Linked DNA regions of Homo sapiens: all the other regions are reported to be linked to region 5. Evidence: microRNA targets listed by miRTarBase, many of them from high-throughput screens and not tested one by one. Region 5 holds a microRNA gene; each other region holds the end of a gene's coding sequence.
What was found. The annotated mature microRNA hsa-miR-1270 reads CUGGAGAUAUGGAAGAGCUGUGU and lies in region 5 at 3,081-3,103, opposite strand. An mRNA with a match to its seed (bases 2 to 7 or 8) in the 3' UTR can be bound and repressed. Matches are read on the target gene's strand: a 7mer-m8 pairs with bases 2 to 8, a 7mer-A1 pairs with bases 2 to 7 and ends in A, and an 8mer does both.

Region 1: miRTarBase lists PDE4DIP as a target of hsa-miR-1270. The part of its 3' UTR that is shown has no 7-base or 8-base seed match.
Region 2: miRTarBase lists TMEM41B as a target of hsa-miR-1270. Seed matches in the 3' UTR shown: 7mer-m8 at 2,895-2,901.
Region 3: the mRNA of RBM8A is a reported target of hsa-miR-1270. Seed matches in the 3' UTR shown: 7mer-A1 at 796-802.
Region 4: miRTarBase lists C10orf105 as a target of hsa-miR-1270. Seed matches in the 3' UTR shown: 7mer-A1 at 1,333-1,339 and 7mer-A1 at 2,441-2,447.

Annotation. Positions count from the first base shown.
Region 1 is chr1:149,031,592-149,035,739 of GRCh38, forward strand. It overlaps PDE4DIP (phosphodiesterase 4D interacting protein), which reads left to right. Exons shown (of 47, transcript NM_001395426.1): 47 at 353-1,425. The coding sequence ends at 394. Among named protein-coding and RNA genes, the nearest start is that of NBPF9, 70 kb to the right of the region's middle. RefSeq lists an enhancer at 1,884-2,383.
Region 2 is chr11:9,279,987-9,284,134 of GRCh38, forward strand. It overlaps TMEM41B (transmembrane protein 41B), which reads right to left. Exons shown (of 7, transcript NM_015012.4): 7 at 668-3,607. The coding sequence ends at 3,438. Among named protein-coding and RNA genes, the nearest start is that of TRL-CAA5-1, 6.8 kb to the left of the region's middle.
Region 3 is chr1:145,922,144-145,926,291 of GRCh38, forward strand. RBM8A (RNA binding motif protein 8A) reads right to left here. Exons shown (of 6, transcript NM_005105.5): 5 at 3,898-4,034; 6 at 1-3,784. The coding sequence ends at 3,739. It also overlaps the pseudogene GNRHR2. Among named protein-coding and RNA genes, the nearest start is that of LIX1L-AS1, 2.6 kb to the right of the region's middle.
Region 4 is chr10:71,712,654-71,716,653 of GRCh38, reverse strand. It overlaps C10orf105 (chromosome 10 open reading frame 105), which reads left to right. Exons shown (of 2, transcript NM_001164375.3): 2 at 312-4,000. The coding sequence starts at 317. The coding sequence ends at 718. CDH23 (cadherin related 23) reads right to left here. Exons shown (of 70, transcript NM_022124.6): 28 at 3,841-3,989. Among named protein-coding and RNA genes, the nearest start is that of C10orf105, 5.1 kb to the left of the region's middle.
Region 5 is chr19:20,396,240-20,400,387 of GRCh38, forward strand. It overlaps MIR1270 (microRNA 1270), which reads right to left and starts at 3,115; the gene lies at 3,033-3,115. It overlaps LOC124904660 (putative zinc finger protein 826), which reads right to left and starts at 1,774. Exons shown (of 1, transcript XM_047439794.1): 1 at 1,008-1,774. The coding sequence starts at 1,619. The coding sequence ends at 1,086. It also overlaps the pseudogene ZNF826P.

The DNA of each region.
Region 1 (4,148 bases), not on the chromosome of region 5:
TCATGCTAAGCACTTCTTTCTTGGGTGGACATGGCAAAGGCCTCTTTCTGCTGAGACAAAGTGATTTGGAGAGTCACCTGGCCCCTGAAGGGGGAGTGGTAGGATCCAGCCACCCAGTGTGCAGTGAATTGGAGCAGGGATCTCAGCACACAGGGAGGTGGGGAGGCTCCCCCTAACCTCGGGCACCTGTTGCTCCTCCAGACTGCAGCGCATGCTCTTAGCTCATCCTCTTAACTGGCTCTCACCGTGCTCCTGGCTTTGGTCACCACGTAGCTCTCACTCCAGCTTCAGGTAGCCATCAGTAGGGCCTGGCAATATACACTGATTTGGTTTGTTTTATGTTTGTCTGCAGGTGAAATCCCTAAGGGCTCTGCCATGTACTCCAGCCTTGTGACCCTTGCCTTCCAGGAACCATGCAAGAAGCGCAGCCACCAGAAGTCCTTAAAACAGCAGGAAAGGTGGGCCTGTCCCCCTTTTGTGCAGCTACCTATCTGCTGAGGAGCATCTGGGCCTCATTCCTCCAAGTCCACGGGAGGGTCCAGAAGAGGGAGTCAGAGATGTATCCTGGTGGAGCTGGGAGAAAGGCAGAAAGCCTTTCTGACGGCTATGGAATACGATTAGCCAAGGTCCACTTGGCCCAGCACTAAGAAAAAGATGCGTAGTTTGCACAGAAGGTTTTGTGATCCTGCCTCTCAACAGCCCCAGCAGCTTGGGAACTAGCAAGAGCACATTTCTTGCCTCATCAGCTGTCCTGAGATGGAAAACTCAGTGAATATAGGACCCTGATTCCGATGAAAGGGGCACGTGGTCCCAATGCTGGAGCTCCTCTGGCAGGTTCTAAAAGCACACTACTGAGCAGCGGTGCCCTGCCGGACACTGCTGGCGGGGGCTCAGTGAGCACTACTCACAGATCCACACCTGACCCTGTTGGGTCGAGTCAGGCTGGGCCTTGGTCTGCACTGTAGCACCTGTGTTCTTTGAGTTCACATCATGAATGTGGTGACTTCCCAGATACCATCTCAGGCTTAACCTAGCACATCCTATTTCTTTTCTTCTATGATATCCAAATTGGACTGACCTCACTTCAAAGTTGCTGTCCCATTTTGTCACCCTATCTTATCTCGGGGAAATTGCAGACTGATGGCCAGACCAACTCTGTTGAAATTCTTGCATAGAGCAAACCTGTGCTCATTTTTAAGTGGCATGGGAGAGGCCCCAAGCCTAGTAAAGCCTAGTCTGTGTCTTCACAGTGCTGGTAGAATGTGTTTGTGTGTATAAATATATGATATAGATTTATATATGTTGCTAACGCCATATATTGAAGGCCAACATAACTGGTGGACAGGGTGGGTGACAGAAAATGAAAGTCTTTTTGGTGATTGTTAAAGCAAAATGTGTATAAAGAAATAAATAGTTTTTCTTTCACTGCTTTGTTTCCCATTTCTGCACCAATCCCTTGACAGTATAAAGAACTGGAAAGAGAAAATGGGAAAGACAAACTGTGTTTAAGAAGCATATAGTCTAATGCTTGAACTCTAACTTTAAAAGATTAAGGTTTTCCTTCTTTGTCATTTTGTAAGAATCCCCAGTCTGAAAATATGAAAGAATGGTTCTTAAACTTGGTGTGCCTGAGAAGCAGCTGTGGAGATTATAGGAGCTACCTCCTGGTCTCCAATCCCAGGAGATTTAGTTGGTGTGAGCCCTAGAATCTGCATTTTTTTAATATAAGCACCCCAGGTGATTCCATTACATGTGGGCTTCAGATCACAGTTTAAAAAACAGTGTTCTATAACATTGAATCAAAACTAAAACTACATTTAAGAACCTTGAATCAAAAAGTATGTCATTCCATAAACATTGATATAAAAATTTTAAAATATTCCTTGGGAAAAGTTCTTAGCTACATGCTTTTGATTCCCAAGATTAAAATAAGCTATCACTTCACAATTATGTACTAGAAACATTTAAAAAATAAAAACAGGTAGAAGGTGGAGTAAGATGGTAGAATAGAATTCTCCAGCAATGGTCTCTCTGAAGGAACATCAAATTAAACAACTATCTATGTAAGAAAACACTTTCACAAGGGCTAGCCAGGTGAGAGATCATAGCACCCGCTTTTAACTTGCTAACAAGAAAAGATGCATTGAAGAAGGGAGGAAGGACAGTCTTGCATTGCCTATGACACCTCTCCCCCAACCACAGGAAATTCTCTGAGAGAGAATCTAATGGCTTGGGGACAAGGGGGAAAGTGTGAGACTTTATATTGAAACTTAGTACCAGTCTTGCCATAGTGATACACGGCACTGGGCAGAACCCCACAGCACTTGATTCCAGGCTGGTGCCCACAGAAGAAGCATTTAGACCCACCCTGGGCCACAAGGGAACCAGCTGCCCCAGCAGGAAGAACCCAGCAAAGTTCTGGCCGGCTTTATCACTGGAAATTTCTTGGGCTTCAAATAAATTTCAGTGGCAGGCAGGCTGTAGTGGCCGCAGTCCTTGGGCAAGCCCTGATGCTGCATAGGTCTGGAACACCCTGGACTTGTGGTGTGAGCCAGTATGATGGCAGCAGCTGCAGCAGCTATGGGAATGCCTGTATCACCCCTCCCCACACTCCAGGCAGTGCAGCCTGAAGAGAGGTTCCTCTTGCTTGGGGGAAAGAAAGGGAAGTAAGCTAGGGGCTTTACCTGGGAATGCGGAGAACAATCCCTGATCTTCCCCCAAGTCCACAGGGCTGGGGACCTAGGAATCGGTAAGAATTGCAGTGTACCTGGGCCTAGGGTGCCCTGTAGTACAAAAATGGCTGCAGTGATCACTGGCTTAGGGAACTCGTCAGCCCACTTTGAATTCCTGGAAAGTCCTCTGAAGGACAGGTACAAACAAGACCTGACTGCAAAGGCTGGAATAAATACCTTATCCTTCAATGCCCAGATACTGACAAACATCAACAGTATCAATAACATTGAAGCCAATATGACCTCAACAAATGGACCAAGTAAGGCACTCAGTGACCAACCCTGGAGAGATGGAGACGTGTAACCTCTCAGGGAATTCAGAATAGCTATTTTGAGAAAGCTCAATGAACTTCAAGAAAACACAGAGAAACAATTCAGAAATATATCAGAAATTTAACAAGATTACTGAAGTAAGAGAAAAAAATCAAATGCTGGAGCTGGAAAATACATTAGTGGGTCTCAGTAGAATTGATCAAGCAGAAGAAAGAATTAGTGAGCATGCAAACAAGCTATTTGAAAATACAGTCAGAGGAGAAAAAAGAAAAGAAGAATGAGCAGGAACACAGAATGCTTAAGAGATCTAGAAGAGGGCCTGAAAAGAGAAAATCAAAGATTCATTGGCCTTAAAGAGGGACTTGAGAAGGAGCAAAGAGTAGAACACTTATTCAAAGAAATAATCTTTTTTAAAAAAAAATACTTTAAGTTCTAGGGTATATGTGCACAACGTGCAGGTTTGTTATATAGGTGTACGTGTGCCATGTTGGTTTGCTGCACCCATCAACTCATCATTTACATTAGGTATTTCTCCTAACGCTATCCCTCCCCCAGCCTCCTACCCCACAACAGGCCCCGGTGTGTGATGTTCCCCTCCCTGTGTCCATGTGTTCTCATTGGTCAACTCCCACTTAAGAGTGAGAACATGCGGAGTTTGGTTTTCTGTCCTTGTGATATTTTGCTGATAATCACAATTTCTAGCTTCATGCATGTCCCTGCAAAAGACAAGAACTCATCCTTTTTTATGGCTGCATAGTATTCTTTGGTGTATATGTGCCACATTTTCTTTATCTAGTCTATTATTGATGGACATTTGGGTTAGTTCCAAGTCTTTGCTATTGTGAATAGTGCCTCAATAAACATAGGAGTGCACATGTCTTTATAGTAGCATGATTTATAATCCTTTGGGTATTCACCCAGTAATGAGATTGCTGGGTCAAATGGTATTTCTAGTTCTAGATCCTTGAGGAATTGCCACACTGTCTTCCACAATGGTTGAACTAATTTATACTCCCACCAAGAGTGTAAAAGCGTTCCTATTTCTCCACATCCTCTACAGCATCTGTTGTTTCCTGACTTTTTAATGATCGTCATTCTAACTGGCATGAGTGGTATCTCATTGTGGTTTTGATTTGCATTTCT
Region 2 (4,148 bases), not on the chromosome of region 5:
GTAGTACACTGGTGTGATGTTGGCTCACTACAACCTCTGCCTCCCGCGTTCAAGCGACTCTCCTGCCTCAGCCTCCCAAGTAGCTGGGATTACAGGTGCACACCACCACACCCAACTAATTTTTTATTTTTAGTAGAGACGGGGTTTCTCCATGTTGGCCAGGCTGGTCTCGAACTCCTGACCTCAGGTGATCCACCCACCTTGGCCTCTGGAAGTGCTAGGATTACAGGTGTGAGCTACCGTGCCCGGCCATTTCATTGTTCTTAGTGGTGAAAATGTACATCGAAATTTAAGAATATACTTTTATTCAACGAAGAGTTTGTTTTTAGTTTTTTGAGACAGAGTCTGGCTCTGTTGCCCAGGCTGGAATGCAGTGGCACAATTTCATCTCATGGCAACCTCCACCTTCTGGGTTCAAGCAATTCTTCTGCCTCAGCCTCCCAAGTAGCTAGGACTATAGGCGTGTGCCACCACACCTGGCTAATTTTTCATATGTTTAGTAGAGACGGGGTTTCACTGTGATGGCCAGGCTGGTCTTGAACTCCTGACTGCAGGTGATCCACCTGCTTCGACCTTCCAAAGTGCTGGGATTACAGGCGTGAGCCACCTTGCTCGGCCAGAGTTTTTTAATGTAAGTACTTCCATGAAATAAATCCCAAATGTGACATTTAGGTTTCTCCAATACAATTTATTATTATTACATTTTAGCTTGCATTTACTAAGTGTCATGGAAATATTATACTCAAAATAACAGAGCTCCAGAGAAAGACAGTTAACTAAGAAAGAACAGTTTCACTTTCTTAGCTTGTCAACTCCTAGTTAGCCTGCTTGCCTCCGCACCACAGATGCTTGTCTTCTTGTGGTTGTTACCACAAGCCAAAGCTTGAATTTACATGGGCATCAGGCCAAGTCTGTAAATCCGTGAAGACAGGCCATCAACTGCATTGAGGGTACAGCCTTGCTGAAGGGTCCTTTCTTGACAGTCAATGATGATGAATCTGGAAAAACTGTCTATTCTCTTAGGAGAAGAAAATATACCCCACCTAAAGTCGCAGCTACCATTAACAAAAAAAAAAATTAGCAAAGGGAAAGAATCAATGGTAAGGACAGTAAATATACTCTGAGAATAGAGTAAGTACAATTTACACACGCTGGAGTAAATAGTGAAGCTTCTACTGAGTTCTACTGAGTCTAAGCTCTTTTATTTTTAAAATTCTGATAAAAATTTACTCAATTACATTTTATACATTAATATTTAGTGAATTTGTCCAAAAAGGCTATGTTTAATTTATGTGTAAAAATAACAAAAGATGTATCAGTCAGTCTCTGGGCAATAAGAAAGGAAGAAAGCCTTGCTAGAAATAATAAATAATCTCACGCAAAAGGCCAGGTGACATAAGAATACTACAATAATCAATATGTTTTCTTTGTATTTACAATAAAATCCATCTGTTAACACTGTGATAGAAAAAATAATCAGTCCACATCATGTAATAAAAACAGGCTTTGAGGATGATTATACCTCTTATAATAAAAACATACAAGGATTTCTCACAGCTAAAGTACTTTTCAACTTTGACAACTAATAACAGTCATGGGTGAAGGTAAAACTGACAGAGTACTTTAGATCAGCTATGTCCTACAGTCAAGGAATCAAGGGCATTACCCATTTACCAAGCAGCAAAAAGCACTTTCATTTTTCCAGAACTATTTAAATACAGTAGTTGCCATGTGATCAGTTAATTTTACTTTGTGAGTTAGATAAAGTAAAGACTAAATTGGGAAACTGCAATAAGTAATCAAAAGTAGCTCCAAACAACAAAGCCATCAATAGAAACAAAAGGCATTTTTCTAGGTGTATCATGCATAAAAAGAATAATTACATAATATTATTAAATATATTCCTTAATGACCAGATTAATAAATGAGGTAAAATTTAGTCATTGGAACAAATAAACTATATTTAATCACTTGTGTTTTGCTGTCACTGTTTAAAATAATTAACTTAATGTCTAAAAACTACATACTCTTGAATGTTTGCTTTTTAGAGCCCCTTGTGGGATATTAAAGAGCCATAACAAATTATCTGAATATAAATTATCAATACCAGGCTGGGCACAGTGGCTCATGCCTGTAATCCCAGCACTTTGGGAGGTGGAAGTGGGCATATAGCCTGAGGTCAGGAGTTCAAGACCAGCCCGGCCAACATGGTGAAACCCCGTCTCTACTAAAAACACAAAAATTAGCTGGGCACGGTGGCACACACCTGTAATCCCAGCTACTCAGGAGGCTGGGCCAGGAGAATCGCTTGAACCCAGGAGGCGGAGTTTGCAGTGAGCCGAGATCACACCACGCACTCCACTCCAGCCTGGGCAACAGCAAGACTCCGTCTCAAAAAAAAAAAAAATTATCAATACCAAATATGATACAGTTATGTAATACCCATTTTGCATATGCACAGTGGAAATACTGTAAAAACTACAAGATGAAAGAAAACCGACTGGCCAGAACTTTAAATTTCAGACTAATCCATGATAAAAATCTAGATGATAAAAAACAAAAATAAAATTAACAAAATAGATAACTTGATATCCTTTCCATATTCAGTCGTCTACTAACATGCCATCTCCAAACAAATCCATTACCTCAAAAGAGGAAGAAAATGGGCCAGGCGCGGTGGCTCACGCCTGTAATCCCAGCACTTTGGGAGGCCAAGGCGGGCAGATCACGAGGTCAGGAGATCGAGACCATCCTGGCTAACACGGTGAAACCCCGTCTCTACTAAAAATACAAAAAAATTAGCTGGGCATGGTGGCGGGCGCCTGTAGTCCCAGCTACTCAGGAGGCTGAGACAGGAGAATGGCGTGAACCCAGGAGGTGGAGCTTGCAGTGAGTGGAGATCGCGCCACTGCACTCCAGCCTGGGCGGCAGAGCTAGACTCCGTCTCAAAACAGAAAAAAAAAAAAAAAAAAAAAGAGGAAGAAAATGTAAATCTCTTTTTAAGTTTTCCAGTTTATGCTCTGAAAAAAGCCTAACATTAACAAAACCTGCAACACTACTTTAAAAAATCTAGAATTTAAAAATATCTATTTTAGTTATTAAAGATAAAAAATATTCAATTAAATTGAATGAATTAGCTGGATCAACAATTTCCTACCACACTACTATTATCTACAGCTACCCTTGGTATAATAATTTATAAGATGTCTAAGATGTCTACCTTAACTATTGATAGCACTTTTCACAGTATACCAATTTCCATTTTTACTTTCTTCTCCCCTTGTCACTTAAATGTATTACTTTAACTATCTGATAGGAAATTTTATTTTACAAATTCCTTGTTTAATTACTGAAGAGGTGATTTTAAAACATAAATGGATGCACCTGTTAATCCTGAGATGGTGATGACAGCAAAACTAAAAATCAGATGATTATTTTTACTCAAATTTCTGCTTTAGTTTTTTTTGGAAGATGGCTGGCAGAATAGAAAGAACAGCCAAGATCATCAGAATAAATATTGAGTTCCAGGAAACAGCTTCTCCTGCTGTTGTAAGTTGATACAGTGTTGTTCCTGCCTTAATGGCTACAAAAGAAGGAGGTGCGACACCTGAAATAAAATATAAAAAGATACAGTAAAAACCACCGCAATTGTTTTTAAAAAATTAAAATGTTCTGTGTGCATAAAGTTTCTTAAAACAACACAGCTATTTCCATTTTGGAAAAAAAATTAAGAATTTAAAGCTCAAGTTTATTTCCATATAAAGAATTCAATCTTTCCTAATCACCTCTTAAGGATAATGATTTTTTTTTTTTTTGAGACGGAGTTTCGCTCTTGTTGCCCCCGCTGGAACACGATGGCGCGATCTTGGCTCACTGCAACCTCCGCCTCCCGGGTTCAAACAATTCTCCTGCCTCAGCCTCCCGAGTAGCTGGGATTACAGGCATGTGCCACCACACCCGGCTAATTTTGTATTTTCAGTAGAGATGGGGTTTCTCCATGTTGGTCAGAATGGTCTCAAACTCCCGACCTCAGATGATCCGCCCACCTCAGCCTCCCAAAGTGCTGGGATTACAGGCATGAGCCCCTGCACCTGGCCAGAATAATGAATTTTAAAAACGCAAGAAAAGGGCCCAGAAAATAGTTTTAC
Region 3 (4,148 bases), not on the chromosome of region 5:
AACCTGGGAAGTGGAGGCTGCAGTGAGCCAAGACTGCACCACTGCACTCCGGCGTGGGCGGCAGAGCCAGACTCTGTTGGGGGTGGGGTGGGGGGGAAAGAGAAAAATAATACTTCTAATATGTTGCAAACAAGACCTTTACCAATCCAAGTGTTAAAAAGAAGCCTGTTGCTACAGTGCCATTTACAATTAGGTTTGTTTATATGAAGCAAATTTTACATGTGGACTGGGAATTAGAAGACTTTTTGTTTCAGTCTGCCTGTTTTACTTTGTTTTTTTCTGAGTCTCGGCTCTACTGCTAACTAGCTATATGATTTTGGCTAAGGCACTTGAAATCCATGGGCCACAAGATGATGCAATGGGAAATGAATTTCATCCTTTCTTACAGCCTGACAATCTGACAATATTTGCAACCTCTATTTGTTTCAATGGCAAACTGGTTGTGACATGATACATGTGCGAAAGGTGATTTTTTTTGTTCCAAATTAGTATCCTTTTAGGTAAATTCTGTATTGCCCATATGCTGTAATTGTAGTTAAAATATTAGTGTTAATAAAATAAAAAATTTAATAATGTCACGTTAGAGTGGTAAGGGCTTAGGGGTAGTTATAGGTAGTATTAGGAGTAGTTAGAAATTACTTATTTTTGTAGGCTTGTTTCCAAGTTATCAGCAGTTGAAAGGGATGTTTCTACAGTACGTGGTAAATGGCAATAAAACAGGATAAAGGAAAGATCAAAACAAGGCTGTGGACCAAACTATAAATCCAAGAGCTTTGATTATTATTTTTTTTTTTTTTGGAGACAGTCTTACTCTGTCGCCCAGGCTGGAGTGCAATGGCGCAATCTCTGCTCACTGCAAGCTCCGCCTCCTGGGTTCAGGTCATTCTCCTGCCTCAGCCTCCCGAGTTCCCAAGTAGCTGGGACTACAGGCACCTACCACCACGCCCGGCTAGTTTTTTGTATCTTTAGTACAGACAGGGTTTCACTGTGTTAGCCAGGATGGTCTCCATCTCCTAACCTCGTGATCCGCCCGCCTCAGCCTCCCAAAGTGCTGGGATTACAGGCGTGAGCCACCGCGCCCAGCCAGCTTTGACTATTTTTATACTCCTCACAATTCTCAAGCACTTCTTAGGCAGAGCACAAAAACAAAAACAAAAAAAAAAACTTAGAAATATATGAATGCAAGAGATGGGAAGAGGAAAGACCATTTCCCAACTAGCTCAGAGTAGCCTGATCGTAACTCCAAACAGTTCACAAAATTCTCTTAGGCTGAAACTATTCATCTTTCCTAAATGTCCCTCATGTCTGCTAAAATCACTTTCCCAAATGCCTTGTATCTAGGAATCTGATGCCTACTGAGCTTACCTTTTATCAAATTAATAGTGACTCAATCTCCATTACTGGAAAGCAGGCACTTTAACCTTGTAGCTCTAAACAGAAATAGTTTTTACTGATTCAGTTGGAAAACCCAGCAATTTAACAAAAAGGGGGAGGGGCAGCCCAATAGCATTTGGAAAATGTTAAATTTTATTATTTAACATTCTTTACCATTATAGTTACTGCACATAAGACTATTACTACTAAAGGTCACTTCAGAGTCCCTGCAAAATGGCCTGGAATTTTGGCAGCACCCATTTTACACAATATTTCTTTTTCCACAAAATAACAGACATACCAGGAAAATCATTTCAGCTAAAAATATGAGTGAGGTGGTAGAAATATCATCCCTTATAAAGCGCAATGTTAGAATAGTACTTGAGAAAGCAGGATTGTTTTAAGTTCCAAGATTTAACAAACTTACTGTTCAGCATCATATTCAAGCCTAAAAGGAAGATAGGATTTTCAAGATATATTTCCAACTTCTTTAACATGGCACCATGGATGAACTGTTTCTCAGCACTGTGCTGCTTCACTTGGAATTAAGGATGAATTGGGAGGAGACAGTATGACATAGGTGGGTAGGTTGGGTGGTGAGGGGAACCAGTTCTAATAGTCCTCAACTCCACTCCAGCTGTTCCTGTTCCACACGGTCCACTGAGCTGGCCCAGTCCCTTTCACTCAGTGTGTCACCAAAGGCAGCTTCAAGGCTCAATGGCAAGAGACCACCTATAACCTCTTCACCTTCTGCTGCCTCTTTCTGCTGCCACTGACTGCCATGGCCATCTGCTATAGCCGCATTGTCCTCAGTGTGTCCAGGCCCCAGACAAGGAAGGGGAGCCATGGTGAGACTCCAATTCCCAGGCCTTAATCCTTAACCCTAGACCTGTTGCCTCTAGCATCATTTATTTATCTACCTACCTAATAGCTATCTACCAGTCACTAAACCATGGTGAGATTCTAACCATGTCTAGCACCTGATGCTAGAGATAATTTTGTTGAATCCCTTCAATTATAAACAGCTGAGTTAGCTGGACAAGGACTAGGGAGGCAATCAGTATTATTTATTCTTGAACACCATCAAGTCTAGACTTGGTGGCTTCATATTTCTATCATAATCCCTGGGGGTAAGAAATCATATAGTCCCAGGTTGGGAAGGGGAAAACGGTTTGCAACATTCTCCTCCTTGTAGGAGGCGAGCTCTGTCTCACTAGCTATGCCCCTCCATCAATTCACCCTATACTCAGATCAGAAGCTGAGTGTCTGAATTACAGTATATTTTCTAAATTCCTAGCCCCTGCTGGTGAATTTGCCCTCCCCCGCTCCTTTGACAATTGTCCCCGTGTTCGTCTCCGGGCCCTGAGACTGGCCCTGCTTATCTTGCTGACCTTCATCCTCTGCTGGACACCTTATTACCTACTGGGTATGTGGTACTGGTTCTCCCCCACCATGCTAACTGAAGTCCCTCCCAGCCTGAGCCACATCCTTTTCCTCTTGGGCCTCCTCAATGCTCCTTTGGATCCTCTCCTCTATGGGGCCTTCACCCTTGGCTGCCGAAGAGGGCACCAAGAACTTAGTATAGACTCTTCTAAAGAAGGGTCTGGGAGAATGCTCCAAGAGGAGATTCATGCCTTTAGACAGCTGGAAGTACAAAAAACTGTGACATCAAGAAGGGCAGGAGAAACAAAAGGCATTTCTATAACATCTATCTGATCCTAACAGAGTATGTAGGAACAGAATAGTAAGTCTTTAGTGCCATAAGATCTTAACATCTCACTTCTACTCCTGCTCTCCTAGTTCCCCCCAAAAAAGAAATACTGACCAGTGTCTCTACTTTAAACCCTACCTGAAACTTGAGACTATGTCTAATATAGAAACTCACATAACTAGCCCAGGTAACACAGCAAGACCCCATCTCTACAAAAATATTAAAAATTTAGCTGGGCATGGTGGCATGTGCCTGTAATCCCAACTACTAGGGACAGTGAGGCAGAAGGATGGCTTGAGCCCAAGAGTTTGAAGCTGCAGTGAGCTATGATCAGCTGCAATCCACCCTGGGTAACACAGCAAGACTCTATCTCAAAAAAAAGAAAAAAAAGAAATACATAGAGTTCAGTCCCTAGAAGTATCTTCACAATGATCCATACAGCCTTGCTATGCTTTAGAACTTTCAATTTTAGGACAGGAAAGTAACATTAAATGTAGAAAACAAAAATGGAACATTTATTCGCAACTCAAATACTACGCATATACGGTAAGAGATTAAATATAAACACAGCAAGTTCCACCCCAGTCCTATTTGTCCAAGGCTGCATGGTCAAATGGAATCTTGAAGAGAACACCTGGACAACAGAGGACCTGTCAGCGACGTCTCCGGTCTGGACTTCTGCTGCGTCTTCGGCCACCTCTAGGGAAAAAGAAGCAGGGAGAGGAGTCCATTAGAGGGACATAATACTAAGTCCTCATTCTGTTTCGTTCGTATTCCCTTCACCCAGACAGTATTTGCCCTCTTCATTTTACCTCCTCTTGCCTTTTGGTGGACCCCGAACAAAACACCAGTCAACGCTGATGGGCTGTCCCATCAAATCCTGGCCATTGAGTCCCTCCATAGCAGCCTGGGCTTCCTTGTATGTTTCATATTCAACTAGAGTATACCCCTGGGGAAAGTGAAAAGACAGATATGAAAACCCTCCTATTTCCCCAAGTATCACTGAGTATCTTTTTCCTCAAATCTAAACTCAGAAAAATCTACACACTTTAAACAATGAATG
Region 4 (4,000 bases), not on the chromosome of region 5:
GTGATGATTCATGAGGATTGATTTGAAAATGCGGACAGGCCACCGCCCTCTTGTCTGCATGGCAGATGGGCACAGGGTGGAACAGGAAGAGGGCCTGAGCTTGGGCCCAGCTCCATCACTGCTCAGCTGTGTGTACACTTAGACTTGTGATGTCTCTGGACCTTGCTGTCTTAACCTGTGATGTGGCCATGATGCTGTCCAGTTTAACAGTGCCTTGCCCCCATCCACATTCCCTAGGTAAGTCTTCCCTATACCCGCTGCCCTGGGTCCAGCTGATCTGCCTTTGAGCTTCTGTCTTGTTGCTGTTGCAGGAGCCATGAGCACAGAGGGCCCCAGCCTCGCCAGCTCCCCAGCCATCAGCCCCCTCGCCTTTCTCTCAGCTCCCGTCACTCCCGGGACCCTTGCAGAGGCAACTGACCCCCTCCCCATGCTCATCGCCCTGGCCTGCATCTTCCTCCTGCTGGCCACCTGTCTGCTGTTCATGACGCTCTGCAAGCCGGCCGCGCTGGACCCGAGCCGCCGCAGGGCTCACGAGTGCATGCCCCACCACCCTGGGAGCCCCAGTGAGCCCCAGCTCCGGCTCTGGAAGCGCCTGGGCTCCTTGCGCCTCTCCCTGCACAGCTTCCGCCATGGCCGGCCCACCGTCCCTCGACAGCCCCTGCCGGGCCCCGAGGACAACCGCAGCCACTGTGACTACATGGAATCTACCAAGATGTAATGGGGTGTCCACAAACATGCCCCCACATCCCCCTAGGTCTACCTGTAGATCCTCCTGCTTCAGAGACCGGTGCTGCAGGCTGCAGGAAGACAGTGGCCCAAGCAGTCTGGGACACACACTCACCCCCCGAAGCTCCTTGCATGCCCAGGCCAGCGCCCTTTCCCAAAGATGATCCTCAGAAGAGCACCTTCCTCTCTGCAGACCCCCTCGCTGCTGCTTGATGAAAGACTTCTGGTCAAGAGATGTGCACTCGTGGTCATCTGGGCCTTTGGCCTGAGGCTCCACAGGGTACAACCTGGGGCTCGTAACCACCTCCTAGAAGCAGCACCCTCGCTCGCCACAGAAGCCTTGCCCTCCAGGTGCCAAAGCCCAGCATGGAGAAGTTGCCAAATGGCAAAGGTTCCCTTTAGTCAAGTGAAATGCTCAGCCTACACCGGGGCCAAGACACTGTCCTGGCATCTGTGCTGGCCCAGTGCTGGGGCAAAACCTCGGGGCTCTCTTCCTTGGGTTTCCCGGGTGCTGCCAGCATCTGCCTGGTGCCCTGTGGGAGCAGCTGCCTCCCTCCTGGTGGAACAGATGCCTGGGTGCCAGCTGGGAGGAGGAGCAAACAGGGCTCTCCAAGCATGGTCTTGGCAGCCGTCTTGGTGGCCCCTCTTCAGGGCACCCACGTTGGGATCAATCAGGAAGGGATTGAAGATGATCGAGGAGGCTCCCTTCAGAGGCCAGGGCGGGTGCTGTGACAGAGTGGCAAGAGGCAGGGCATTTCCAGCAGCTGGAGGTGATGCCACCTGGACTCGGAGGAGGACAGCTCACAGCAGCTCCACACCTCACCCAGGGAAAGCGGCAGCCTCCCCGAGGGTGGGATGGTCTGGACCTCTCCAGGACAGCTGTGGGGTCCCAAGTCCTGCCCACACTAGGGATGCTATCTGTGGTTTTGGTGAGTGCTTTGCTGATGACCCGTCAAAGCAGTCCCACCCCAGGATGGGCTTCTCAGAATCCCAAACCCTTGACCTCTCCTCACAACGCGAGGGTTAAACACTTTGGTCAGGTCCCAAATTTGAAGGGTGGGCAGAGGGAGGACCTGGGCTGCCCAGCTCCTGTCCCAGTCAGCTGGCCAGGATCCCACCACAAAGCTGCCCCACCCCCATCCTGCTGTGACCCACAGTGCAGCCAGCCACGTCTCCCCAAGGAGTGAGCTCTGGCTTGCCACTCCCCAGCTCCAAAACCTTCACTGGCTCCCTAATGCCAAATGGATATAGCCAAAGCTCCTCAGCGCAGTGTGCAGTGCCCTCTGGGAGCTGGCTCCAATTAATCTTTCTAGCCTCATCTTGATCCAAAACTCCAGGAAAACTGAAAGACCTGTCACCCACTAACTGTGGCTTATGCTTCACACACACCCACTCTGTGAAGCCCTCCTGCCTGGAGCCGCCCCTACTGTCTCCTACCTCTCTTGGGGAGGAAAAGGAACATTCTCTTGGCAGCATGGGTCCTTTTTGTCTATGTCTTCTCTTTCCTACCAGCTTGGGAGCTTGCAGAGAGCCAGACATTGTCCAGCCCCTCACTTTGACTCCCCAGTTCTGTGCACAGAAGTATGAGGCTTCTGTGTACAGAGTGAAGCGTGGCCCAGCCTGGGTGTGTCCCCACCCTCTGAGGCAGGAGTCTTGGTGGAAGCTGGCATAACACAGAGCCTCATCTTCCCTCAGATGACTCTAGAAAGATTTCTCTCCAAGCAGGCTCTATTGGAGAAGCCCACTGTCCCTTCCTTCCAAGTCAATCTGATCTCAAAAAGTGAGTCCGGCTTCACAAGAAACTTACCAAGAGGACCTTGGAGAAGTCATCCTGAGACGCTGCATTTCTCCCTGAGAAATGGGAGAACTCAGGGCTGCCCTATATTAACTCGCTGGCTCTAGGATTTCAGTAAGAGTAGTATTGTGTAAATAGAAACCAAGTCTTTGGGTTTAGAAAGTGGGGCAGGCCTCCTCCCTAAGGGTTTTGTTCCTTCCTCCCTTCCTGCTCAGTAACCTCTTCCTGGTTTGCTTCCCCTGGGGCCTCCCTGCAAATCCTAGGCTGGATTCAGCCTGTAGCCATCCACCTCACCAGCAGGCCCTGCTGGCCACTAGGCACTGTCTTCCTGGAGGTTGGGGTGGGGGTTGAGGCTGCCCTGAGGCCTGAAGAAGGAAAAGTCCAGGAGGGGGAGGGCTCTCAATTGGGTTTCAGGCACCAGGCCAGGGGGGTATGCTCCAAGTCCTCACAAGCTGAGGCCCTGATCGAGAGAACCCTCTACTTCCTCCTTCTGGAGCTAGCCACCACACTCTCGCAAATCCTCAGGGCTTTCTGGGCTCTCTGTGTTTCTGGGAGTCAGCTCCCTGCTCCCCAGCCCTTTCCTGCCCGCCTCCTGGTCCCGATGCAGGGAGGGGAGCATTGCCAGCCTCCCACGCTTCTGTCCCTCCCAAGCCCGGGAGCCTGCCCCAGTGGGCAGGCCCAGATTCCCTGTTTGGCTCAGCCTCCGAGTCGGAAACCCCATAGTTGGTAAAGAGACTCATTCACTCCGGGCCTCCCTCCCCACCCAGCAACTGAGGCCTCTGGGCAGAGGTGTGGGTGCACACCCAAATTGTTTTCAGGGTCCTCCCTTCTCTCCCTCTGAGCCTTGGAGCTGTTGCGCCTGCTCCCTGGGCAAAGGAGCCCTTTCTTCTTGTGCCTGTTTACTTCCCAAGAGGGGAGCCTCGGCCAAGGGCTCTGTGAAAGCAGCTCTGTTCTGGGCCTTGCTGGGCCCTGGCTCTCTTCTCAACTCCTTTCCGGGAAATTGTGACGTCTCTTTCTCCCCGCTACTCTGAAAGGCCCTTCTGGGTGGGGCGGGAGATATGCAGGGGGAGGCCAAGTCTTCCTCCTGTTTGTGGGGAGCCAGAGCCCTATCCTCAGCTCTGCAACCTGGGGGCCCACACTCCCTGGGATGGGAGAGGGCCTGGGTCCCCCTTTCCCCACAGCACCTTCCAGAGCAGCGGACCCACCCTGGGCCCCCACCTGCTTCCGCCTCTGGTGCCACTGAGCATGTGCCCTCAGGGCCGTGTGTGGCTCCGCCTCCCCCAGCCCACCACCTGCCCCAGAGGCCACGGGCCACCTGCCTGCAAGATGCTGTGGCCTTCAGGGATGTCCTCAGGGACGCTGGCCTCATAGCTGCTCTGCAGAAAGATGGGCCGGTTGTCATTCACATCCAGGACAGTGACGAACACGGTGGCTGTGCCCGTGTGTCGCTTCCCTACAGGGCCGTTGTCTGTGGGAGTT
Region 5 (4,148 bases):
CATGTGAATAGGAATAAAATAACAGCATAAAGTAATTTGAAAGCTGTATGACATCATTATTCACTTTTGAAAAACTTTTTTTCAAGAAAACAAGTATACTTTTAATGTAATTACAATGCTTCCAAAAATCTCCTTTTAAAGCTATATACAAATAATTTTAAACAATTTTTTATTTTTATATTTATCAAGTGTGGCAACCAAATAAAGGCTTTGTCACATTTTATACTTTTCTACAGTTTCACACTAGTATAATTTTTTTATGTATAGAAACGTTGGAGGTGTTGGGAACAGCACTGTCACATCTTTCAGGTTTGTAGAGTTCCTCTTCAGCATGAATTATTGCCATGTCTCTTAAGAATTGAGAACTTATGGCTAGGAATGGAGGCTCATGCCTGTAATCCCAGCACTTTAGGAGGCCAAAGTGGGTGGATCAACTGAAGTCAGGAGTTTGAGACGAGCCTGGCAAATATGGCAAAACCCCATCTCTACTAAAACTACAAAAATTAGCTGGGTGTCATTGTGGGTACCTGTAATCCCAGCTACCCAGGAGACGAAGGTTGCAGTGAGCCAAGATCATGCCATTGCACTCCAGCCTGGGTCACAATAGTGAAACTGCATCTCAAAAAAAGAAAAAAAAAATTGAGAACTTGTTATAGGCTTTGCCAAATTCTTCACACCTGTAGGGTTTCTGTCCAGTATGAATTATGTGTAATAAGTGTTGAGAACTTCCTTACAAAGAGGTTTGTCAGCCTGGTGCAGTGGCTTGTGCCTGTAATCCTGGCAATTTGGGAGGCTGAGATGGGTGGATCACTTGAGGTTGGCAGCTGAAGACCAGCCTAACCAACATGGAGAAACCCCATCTGTACTAAAAATACAAAATTAGCCAGGTGTGGTGGTGCATGCCTGTAATCTTAGCTACACAGGAAGGCTGTGGCAGGAGAATCGCTTGAACCTGGGAGATGGAGGTGAAGGTGAGCCAAGATTGCGCCATTGCACTCCAGCCTGGACAACAAGAGTGAAACTCCATCTCAAAAATAAATAAATAAATAAATAAATAAATAGATAAATAAATAAATAAAGCTTTGTTACAGTATTGGTTTCTGTCCACTATGAATTCTCTTATGTTTATTGAAGTCTGAGGACCAGTTAAAAGCTTTGCCACATTCTTCACATTTGCAAGGTTTCTCTCCAGTATGAATTGTCTTATATTCACTTAGAGTTGAGGATGCAGTAAAGGCTTTGCCACATTCTTCACATTTGTAAGGTTTCTCTCCAGTATGAGTTCTCCTATGTTTATGGGGGCTTGAGGACCATGTAAAGGTTTTTATACCATTTATAGCATTTCTCTCCAGTATGAATTGTCTTATGTATAGTAAGGTGTGAAAAATGGTTGAAGGCTTTGCCACATTCTTCACATTTGTAGAGTTTCTCTCCAGTATGAATCTTCTCATGTTCACTAAGGGTTGAGGATAAAATAAAGGCTGTGCCACATTTATCACACTTGTATGGTTTCTCTCCAGCATGAATTTTCTTATGCCTAGTAAGGTGTGAGGAATGGGTGAAAGCTTTGCCATATTCTTCACATTTGTAGGGTTTCTCTCCAGTATGAATCTTCTCATGTTTACTAAGGGTTGAGGATGAAATAAAGGCTTTGCCACATTTATCACACTTGTATGGTTTCTCTCCAGTATGAGTTTTGTTATGTGAAGAAAGGGTTGCAGGATGTTTAAAAGCTTTGCCACATTCTTTACATTTGTAGGGTTGCTCTCCAGTATGAGTTATCTTATGAATAGCAAGCTGTGAGGGCCAGTTAAAGGCTTTGCCACACTCTTCACATTTGTAGGATTTCTCTCCAGTATGGATTATCTTATGTTCAGTAAGCGTAGAGGAATACTTAAAGCCATTGCCACATTCTTCACATTTGTAGGGTTTCTCTCCAGTATGAGTTATCTTATGTGTAGTTAGGTGTGAGGACCATCTGAAGGCTTTGCCACATTCTTCACATTTGTAGGGTTTCTCTCCAGTATGAATCTTCTCATGTTTACTAAGGGTTGAGGAAAAAATAAAGGCTTTGCCACATTTATCACACTTGCATGGTTTCTCTCCAGTATGAGTTTTCTTATGTGAAGAAGGGGTTGTGGGATGGTTAAAAGCTTTGCTGCATTCTTTACGTTTGTAGGGTTGCTCTCCAGTATGAGTTATCTTATGAATAGCAAGCTGTGAGGACCAGTTAAAGGCTTTGCCACACTCCTCACATTTGTGGGATTTCTCTCCAGTATGAATTATCTTATGTGTAGTAAGGGTACAGGAGTACTTAAAGGCTTTGCCACATTCTTCACATTTTTAGGGTTTCTCTCCAGTATGAGTTATCTTATCTGTAGTAAAGGTTGAGTACCAGTTAAAGTCTTTGCCACATTCTTCACATTTGTAGGGTTTCTCTCCAGTATGAATTTTCTTATGTGTAGTAAGGGTTGAGGACTGGTTAAAAGATTTGCCACATTCTATATGTTTCAAAGGTTTTTTTACAGTACGTCTTCTGTCTGTTTGAATTTGAAAATTGATGAAAGACTTTCACATATTTATCACATTGAAATATTTTGCAATGGGTAGTTGTCAAGCATTGGTTAAGCCCATTATAACCTCTTTTTTGCACCTTACACTCATCCACACTTTCACATCCTTTTTTTAACTGTAAATTGCCATGTCCACATTTTTTATATCTTCTCAGTATCACTTTTTGAAAAGAATCTTTTATGTTCTGCTCTAGCCAAAGTTCTTGGGCAAAATGAGAACAAATAACTGAAAGAGACAATAAAAACACAACACTTCAACTGCTAGACTCAGATAAATATATTTTACAAATCTAACCTATAAAATTTCACAGACTACCTAAGGAAGATGACATGGCAAAATACCACAAGCTGTAATTTCTTCCTGGACATATAAATGTAACAAAAACATACTGACCAAAATACAATTTGTAAAAAATGTATAAGTGAATTAAGTGTGTGAAGGGTCCCAGGTGAGCACAATGCAAAGAGCCACATAGAAGATAAAGAAAAGCCTGTTACTTATACCCAACACAGCTCTTCCATATCTCCAGTATAACTCTGTGCCTTTAAAAGTAAATTATTGGCCTGGTGTGGTGGCTTGTGTCTGTAAACCCAACACTTTGGGAGGCAGATGTGGGTGAATCACTTGAGGTCAGGAGTTCAAGACCAGCCTGGCCAAGATGGTGAAACCCCATCTCTACTAAAAATACAAAAAATTAGCCAGGCTTAGTCATGGGCACCTGTAATCTCAGCTACTGGGGAGGCGGAGGCATGAGAATTGCTGGAACCCAGGGGGTGGAGGTTGCAGTAAGCTGAGATTGCACCACTGTACTCTGGCCTGGGTACAGAGTGAGACCCCACCACAAAAAATAAAAATTAAAAAAAAAAAGTTAATTGCCAACCAGGCATGATGGCTCATGCCTGTAATTCCAGCAATTTGGGTGAACAAGATGGAGGACAACCAGAGGTGATCAGCCTGACCAACATGGTGAAACCTCATCTCTACTAAAATACAGAAAATTAGCCAGGGGTGGTAATAGGTACCTGTAATCCTAGCTACCTGGGAGGCTAAGGCAGGATAATTGCTTGAACTCTGGAGGCAGAGATTGTACTGAGCCAAGGTCATGCCTCTGCACTCCAGACTAGTTAATAGAGTGAGGCTCTGTCTCACACATACACACAAAAATGTAAATTGCCAACTCCTGGTTTCTTTTTTAAAAAACAAGAAAAATATTGACACATACATCTTTATTTCTGGCTTCTAGGGGCTTTTTTAGACACTAGTTGATATGTCCCATGACACAAAATGCCAAAAAAAATGGTGATATATGTTAGAATGACACTTTGAGTCTGAAGGTAAATTATAGAGAAGCAGAGAAACTGCAGTAACCCAAACAGGGAATGGGTGTAGTGAATGATTACTTATTATTAACTAAACAATAAACATAAAATTTTAAACAAGACACACCTTAAAAACATGTTTGAGGAATTCTCAGAATCTAGAGTCAAGACAATTGATTTCAGACTATGCCAGGACAGAGCCATATTATAAAGACTGTAACAGGTAGCTTTTTGTTAATGTCCTAATCTCAATCA